2 linked regions of the Homo sapiens genome follow. The protein of the gene in region 1 purifies or fractionates together with the protein of each later gene. This does not show direct contact. Each region holds a gene or a part of one and is shown on either strand. Other genes may lie near its edges.

The links.
Region 2: the proteins of RGCC (region 1) and TLN2 purify together in Homo sapiens (affinity purification with mass spectrometry; 3 studies listed by BioGRID and IntAct, with this or other methods). This does not show direct contact.

Annotation. Positions count from the first base shown.
Region 1 is NC_000013.11:41,456,123-41,460,459, reverse strand, and holds the start of RGCC (regulator of cell cycle RGCC), read right to left. Parts: upstream 2,911-4,337; 5' UTR 2,753-2,910; coding exon 2,704-2,752; intron 2,176-2,703; coding exon 1,990-2,175; intron 1,489-1,989; exon of another isoform or gene 1,221-1,488; intron 1-1,220. UniProt on the Homo sapiens protein: Modulates the activity of cell cycle-specific kinases. Enhances CDK1 activity. May contribute to the regulation of the cell cycle. May inhibit growth of glioma cells by promoting arrest of mitotic progression at the G2/M transition.
Region 2 is NC_000015.10:62,739,825-62,743,630, reverse strand, and holds part of TLN2 (talin-2), read right to left. Parts: intron 3,002-3,806; coding exon 2,862-3,001; intron 1-2,861. UniProt on the Homo sapiens protein: As a major component of focal adhesion plaques that links integrin to the actin cytoskeleton, may play an important role in cell adhesion. Recruits PIP5K1C to focal adhesion plaques and strongly activates its kinase activity.

The sequences.
Region 1 (4,337 bases):
AGCTGCTGTTATTATCCTTATCCTGGTGTGTCTCCCTCTTGATGAGCTAAATTTCAGTAGTATCTACCTCTCTTAAGCATTCTCTCCCATAGAAAAGCATTAAACAGACAAACGAGGATAACAAATGTCTGTACTCAATTCTTGGCAGCAATTAAGATATACATATTATGCTTCCTTAAGAAATTACTATTTAGATACACACAGCTTCTGCCAACAATATTTCTGACTAGCCTTGTGAGAGAAAAACTACACATTTAAAGCAAAGACAAATGTCATCTGAGCTTTCTTTATGTTCTTCCCATCACTTCTCTAACCACCAAACTAAGGGTTAGTCCGTTAACAACAAAAGCAGAAAACAGACACATATAACCTAAGCAAAACTACAAACTATCCCAACTATCTCCCCTGAAACTGTTAAGAATGTGTTTCTATGTCTTCTCTTTAAGGCATCTGAAAACAGATTCTAGATCTGAAATCCCACCCAGTGGAAGTTGCAATCAGCCATGAATGGGCGCGCTCAGACCTATTCTAGTAGAGTGAGGCTGTTGCTTAGAAAGGAGCTGTTCTTTGCCACAGAGCAGCAGCGACACACTATCCTAGCTTTCTTTTCCATGCGAGAATCTGTATTTGATGAATAACTTGCTCCATGCCCCAGTAGGAGGAGACATATTTAAGTTTGGCCTTTAGAATTGAGACAAATTTCAAAAATGTTAACACTTTGCTTTGAAATTGAAAATGAACCTATTCATTAAGAACAAAGTCCAAAAATTCTAAGTGGAAAAGTAACAGTACTTTCTTCCATCCCCTTTCACCTCAAAAGCTGCAGCTTGGTCTAACTCTTTGGCAGTGCTGCCAAGGAAACAAGCTGGAACTCAGCTTCCTGAGTCAAACCCTGACCAGGGTGGTGAGCGCATTTATCCCTTTGCAGAAGGGCAGCTCATGTTCATGTCTAGCCCCGAATCTTAGCCCAGGAACAAGGAAGAGCTCCAGGTTTCAAAATAAGAGAATCACACGGAAAGGCCATTACTTTCACGTCCTGAGTCAAGGGCAGCAAAAGGAGTGACATTCATGCCTGTAACCCATCTAAGGATTAAAGGCTGAAGAATAACACAGAAGAGTTTAAAATTGACTTTGCCCTTTGAAAAACAATAAGCAATTCTGGATTTGAAACCAACAATCATGTAATATTAAAAAGGCACCTAATTTGCTGTTTGAGGTACCTGTAATCCTCCCAGGACATGTGAGTTCCTGGAAAAAGCTGTCTCTTTTGTTGTTTTTGTTGTTGTTGCTGTTGTTGACAAAGTTGTTCAGGACAAAGAGACCCTGGGGTAGTCTCCATTGTGAGAAAGATCACCAGGAACCACCTTCATGCCCATGTGCTCTCTGGCTCCCCCTCCAGCCTGGTGGAGGACCTGGCTGAAAAATACTTGAACTCAGCAGTGCCAAAGATTTTCATAACTGCATGCAATGGAGCAACAAGTCTGAGAGCTAAGGGCCAGAAGACAATGCAAGCAGTTATTTCATAAATCCCAAGAACAGCAGTTTGGGCTTATGAAACCTTTCCTGGTTTCATGAATATTTCCGTTCTGCGCCCTCCCATGTCCCCACTGTGCCCCCTCATTCCACTGGCACTTGTTCCACATCTGCAAAGTTACAGCTGAGAGGGGAGAGGCACGGAAAGGAGAAGAGGAGGGAAACTGCGGAAAGGCCTGGTGCAGGTCCAGGGAGTCCTGTCTGGCTGAGTCGGGACAAGCTGCTTAAACTCGCCTGCCTGGTGACACACCCGTGGGCGGCAAGTGAACCAACCTGCCCTCCAGCGACCTTTCCCGTGATTATCGTCAGGGGCCCCGCCACCACTCGGCCTACTGCGTTGAGCTTCAGGAAACCATTCCTCAGTTTACTGATAAGAAAACTGAGGCCGCAGCCTTCGCGGGGCAGGTCCTGGGAGCTGGGAGATCCCGGCGCCATCCTAGCGGGGGCCGCACTTACTCTCCGAGTCGCTGAAGCCGCTGCTGTCGCTGACACTGGCGCTGCTGCGCCGCTTCATGCGCTCCAGGTGCTCCTCGTAGTGGAAGTGGCGCTCGTGGAAGGGCGACGCGAAGTCGGCCAGCACCGCGTCAAACTCGCACAGCGCGTCCGACAGGTCCTCCGCGGCCGCCGAGTCCAGGGCCGGGGCTGCGGGCAGGGCCAGGGGCTCAGTGCACGGAAGTCAGGGGGGCAGCGGGACCACCTCCCAGGGCCAGGAGGGGCCGCCACGGTTCCCGAAGATAACTGACACTTGGCGCCTCTGCCAAGTGACAGCCACGCAGTCGCTGTTACCTTGTAATCTTCTCCACCACCCCCGAAGTGCGTTCTATTACCAAGTCCGTTTTACAGACAAGAAAACTGAGCCTTCGCCAGGCCCAGGGTCACCCAGCGACTTGGCGCGGCCAGATTCCTCCCCAGGCGCTGCCGGTTACCTGTCCCCGCCGCTCCCCCCAACCCCGGGCGCGCGCGGAGCTGGTGGTGGAGGGAAGGTGGGACATGGGGGCCAGCCCGGGCCGGAAAGGAGGCTGCAGCCGCCCGCGCGGGAAGACCGGGGACAGGTTCCCGCCGGGGAGGATGGAAGGGTGGGGGGTGTGAAGGGACGACACGGGGCCCCTCCTTTCTCACCCGCCATCTGCAGAGCCGAGACTTTAAGGGGACCCCGGACCCCGCACTCACCTGCGGCCGCGGCGGCCGCGGGGCTGCCCTGCGCCGCGGGCGGCTTCATGAGGCGGCTCAGCTGGGCCCGGCGCGCGTGGCCTTGGGTCCTGCGAGGTGGCAGCCGGGGCTATTCGGGGGCTTGCTGTCCCGCACACTTCAGCCCTGCCAGTCCCTTCGGCGCTGCGCTCCAGCCGCGCCGCTCCCAGCACGGTCCGCGCCCGCCCTACCACCGGCTCGGGTTCCTAGATCTTATAGCCTTCGGCGGCCGGAGCGGAGGCGGGGCCGGGGCGGGGCTGCGGAGCCGGGGCGACGGGTCTGTCCCCGCCGCCCTCCGAGGAGGCCCCTGCCCCCAGGCACCGCCCTCGCCACGCGCCCGCCCTGGAACCGCGGTGACGAGGAGTCGCCGAAGCCCCGGTTACAGCCCCAAATATTTACCCGCCTCTCGCCCCCGCGCCCTGACAACCCGGCCCACGCGGTGTCCTCGGCGTCACCAGAGCTGACTGCTGGGCGCGAGCTCTGCTGCTTCCCGCCGCGTGCCAGGCACCTCCGCGAGCCGCAGCTTCCTCGGCTGTGAAGTGGACGTGGGCATGCAGAGCCTCCCTGGCTGGCGGTGAGGGACGAAGGAGCCCGCGGCCGTGTCCCAGTCGGGTGTCGGGGACGCGGAGGTCCCCTACGCATTGTCCCAAGGGGACTTCCGAGATGGTGGGCGGGCGGAGTGGAGAGGGTCGGGGCGAGAGGGGCAGGAGTTGGGGGAGTCCTGAACTGTTCCCACCGCGGAGCGCGGGGGCCTGAACTACGGTCCAGGGCGCTCCCGCCAGCCTGACTTTATCTAGAAGGGGTTTATTATGGGAAGAAACTACTGCGTCGACGCAGCGCGAACAGGGCGCCTTGCAGTGTCCACGGAGTAACGAGCCACCCTGCCCCGCGGCCTGCGGGGGCGAACGCCCTGGACTGTGCGCTGAGCTAGGCGCTAGCCTCTCGCCTCTCACCACAGACGGCTAATTAAATGTAGAGCAATTAACATGTAACGGAGTGAAACATTCAGCCTCCACTCCCAGCTAGTTTTTGTATTTTTAGCAGAGACGGGGTTTGTCCATGTTGGCCAGGCTGGTCTCGAACTCCCGACCTCAGGTGATCTGCCCACCTCAGCCTCCCAAAGTGCTGGGATTACAGGCGTGAGCCACCGCACCCAGCCAGGATTTGTTTTCAGAATATAGAAAGACCCATCTACAAAGTAATCACAAATAGACAACCTGGTAAAAATTAAAAATGAGCAAAACATTGAAACATACACCTCACAAAGGAGTATATGTTAATGACCACTAATCATATGAATAGTCCTCCTCTCTTGTCTACTCTGGGTGGCCTAGGGATATGCTTGTCTTGTGGAGGCACAAGCACTGTGGGCTCAAGAGTGGGGAGCCTCTTTCCCTGTTAAGGGGAGGACACCACTGGGATCTCTGGTGCCATCTCCTGCAATGGATCCTCTGATGTGGGGTCGAACAGAACTTCAGGAGTTGATTTCCCTGGGTGAGTGGAGCGGGATCCTTCCTTAGCTATCTGTCCCTTTGCTACTAGTATTGCTGCTGCATGCCCTCAGCCACTGTGGGGGTTCTAGCACCAGCTGTCACCAAGTGTCTATGTATGGGAAC
Region 2 (3,806 bases), on another chromosome or scaffold:
TGGGTGACAAAGGGTCTCCAGCTCCACCCAACTTGTCAGAAAAGAGCCAGAACCCAAACAGTTACACGGGAAGAAAATGAACAAACCAGGCACTAAATAGCAAATGACTTCCTCTCCCCTAGGCATCCAAAACCAAGGGGATAGGTAGGGTCCCAAAAACGTACCCAGGCTCGGAAGCAGAATTAAGAACAGAGGAAAAAGACATCCTCTACTTTTTTCTCCAGAAGCAAACCTTTTCTTCCCAGAGCAAGAAGGACCACAGAGACCACAAATAATAAGGGGTTTGAGACTGTTAACACAGGAGTGGGACAGGGCTGAGTTGGTCCAGGCCTGGGTCCCCGCAGTGGCATTTCTGGGGACTTTGAGGATACACACAGGAAGGACAGGCAGGACCTGACAGTCTCAAGAACAAGGAGGACAGAGGACTGAGGACTGAGACTATGATGATCAGATCCCTTCTGCCCAGCTTCCTGTGCACTTTTATGCAGGACTGTTCTAGGCCCAGATGAAATGAGCGGAGCATGTGGTGAGTCCTGCCTAACTCCACCAGGGCCACATAATGAGGGTTATAAATACACAAGATATAAAGACACACATAATAAGACAGGCCCTGTCTTATTCACAGTGTGCACTCAGCACTGGGCGTCACCCACATCAGGCCTGTGATGAAAATCTATGTAATGAAGACATGAATGAATAAGACAATGAATGAATGAACCCCAGCCTGGCAGAGCTTTGTGTCCCAAGAGGAGCCTGCCTGACCCTCTTGACCTGGCTGGAGTCTCTGCTGAGAAACAGCCCCAGGGAGCAGAAGCTTGCCAAAATGTGCCAAAAAACCAAGGAGAATGTGCCAGCGTTTTCTCGCAACAGTTCCATCCCAAGACAATCATTTTCATGTGATGATTTTTAAGTGCTTACCTGGCTATGAAATCACCAGGCTGGGAATTCTCCGTCAACTGCTAAAAGCCAGGACAGAAAGGCAACGAAAGCTTTTTTTTTTCCCCTTTTCCCCATGTCCTTTCTTCGAAGCCACCACCAGGGGGCCTGCACCTATTCACAGAGCCATACACCAGCAATATTCTTTCCGGCTCTGTTTCCTTCTATATCTGGCTTTCAAAAGGGCAATTTATACATTCCCCCTCCTTCCCACAATTTAGGAGAGTGAAGCCATTCCAAGCTGGAAACTGTAATTTTGAAATGATGCAAAAAATTGAAGATAATGAAAAACATCTGAGTTCTGATACCTGGAAATGTCAGTTGCCTTATCCAAAGGCTCCTTTGTAGGAAAAAAAGCAACGATCAAGAGGGGGTTTTCTATCAGAAACAGCTGCTCAACAGAACAGACATCACCCCCAACCCCACCTCCCATCTCTCCCACCATCAAGGGAGGTCACTTATTTACTAGAACAGTCACGAACAAAGCATGAGATGGGAAGATAATTTTCCAGTCCCCTAGTGGCTCTAGCTATTGTTTGCAGTTAAAATGTACCTTCCAGGAATAAATGAAGAAACTCAAGGGTTTGCAAGCAAACTGCTCTGACAGTGTCTAACCCTTCACACACACACACACACACACACACACACACACACACACACACACACACACCCCACTACAAGCCAAGAGGGAGGAAGGACATGTTTGGACCATGAGTACCATGAGATCTTATGTGCTGAGAGCTAAGGAGAGCTTTAAGGATGATGTAGTTCATACCCCCACTTTGCAGATGGGAAAGTTTAGACAGGCTGAGCAACCTGACCAATGCGACTGAGTTAGTCAAGTATTAAAGCTTGGAATATAATTCAGGTCTCTTGATGCCGACAATTTAAAAAACAGCCAATGATCTCCCAGGGGAGACATAAAGACACACACACACACACACACGCGCAAATTTTAAAAAACCAAGTTAAAAAAAGGAAAGCAGAATCAAAGCTATGCTTTTCAAAAATCACGAATCTGCACATTATAAAAAGGCCTCCAATTACTCTCTATCCCCTAATAGTCCTGCTTTTAATCTCTCTCCACTGTCAGCTTTCTTATACGTAATATGATGGTAAATAATGCTAAAAAAACATGCCTGCACCACCACAGAATCATGACCACCCTACTCTCTGGGTTCAGGAAAATGAAAGAGGGGCTGCTGATACGAGAACCCCCTGGGCTGTCACTGCAGTGCTCCACATACCACATTCAACCACTAGTTACTGAACTAACTTGTGGCCCTGGAGCAGAAACTATACTGTTTTATCCACTTCCCTGGGTGAAACCAACAGGAAAGAAGGACACCCAAATCATCCAAAATTCACACTCATGTTTTAATATATTTCCAAAAACAATTTATTCCCACTGCCTCCCTACTCATCTTAAAGTGGAGCCTTCCCCATGTGACAGATACAACATGTTACATTCAATCTAACACTGATGCCAGGCACAGGGTTAAGTGCTCAATAAAAGTCTGCTGAATGACTTGATGAGCACTGCTTTTCATCTTTACGCTTTTCAGTATTTTCTGATGTTTCAAGAAGCATATATACTATTTTATAATCAGAAAGATATAATGCTACTTAAAAAAAATCTGTTTAATTCATTGCATTTACAAGTCAAAATGGACCTTACGTCTAAACAAGTCTCTACTGAAAAGGCTGTATGAGAAGACAGAAGATATTTTTAGTGGGGAAAGAACATGGAAATGAGCCAGTTTTATAAAATATCAGAGTGTCCATCACTCTCAGCTCCACCTCCCATGACCTAAGGACAGCACCAATTCTTTTGCTCAGCAAAAGTGGGAGGATGTCAGGCACATCTTCAGACTGCAATGACACTGTCTAACCACACACGAAAGCACATTGTGTCCCACTCCTACCTTGCAGCTGCAGCCAGGAGATTTTTCGCATTGGGAGCTCCTGGATCTACAGAGAGAGACTTGGCAGCTAACAGCAGCTTGCTGGATGCCATCGAGATATTCTTGAGGTTCCCTATCACTTGGATCTGGTCTTCTTTTGTCTGGAAGGTCAAAAGGAGCCGGAGCTATTAGGGCCTGTCCATTTCTTGAAGGAGGCATTCAGAGAGCTAGGAGCAGCATCCTGACATGCAGGCAGGTTATCCGTATAGATCACATTAAACCCAGTTAGCCCGCAGATGCCTAACTCGTTGAGACACTGACCAGTGTCTACCCTTCTCCAAACAGATGCTCAGATCAAGATGCATGCCACAGGGAAAGAAATCCATCCCCAAGTGGGTCAGCCAAGAGCTGTGCTTTTCTCACAACTAGAGGCATTAAGCGGGGAGCAGGGTGGGAGGAGAGTGAGCGAGCTGTGAGCCAATGCACAGACCAGGCAGCGATTCCAGCATCTTGCTCAACAATGCTGGAGTTGTCAAGGAGCTGTACATCTCGGCCTGGCACAAACGACCAGCACTGTCTCGATATTCAGAGCTGACTGCATCCCTGAAGTTCCTGACTCGGGAAAGCACACATTTCTCACCCGGTTGCCATCTGAGAAACAATTCTTTGTAGATACTAGAAGAAGATACACCCTGGTTATCTCTTTTAGGGAGGTCAAAGGAGCGCAGAAAAAAAAAAAAAAACAAAAAACACAGCTCTGCAAGCTGACACCAGATCAGTCAAGCTCCCTTGTTCTAAACAAGGGGTTTATCTGTTCATCTGAAGGAGGTAATTTTTAATCACTTGACACTCTGTATTAGACACAGACCATCTGAATGGTCCATTAAACCTCAAATACATATATATTTTTATTGTATTATCCCACATTTGAAGAGCTGTTCTAATCTTTGTTAAACATTCTCCCTC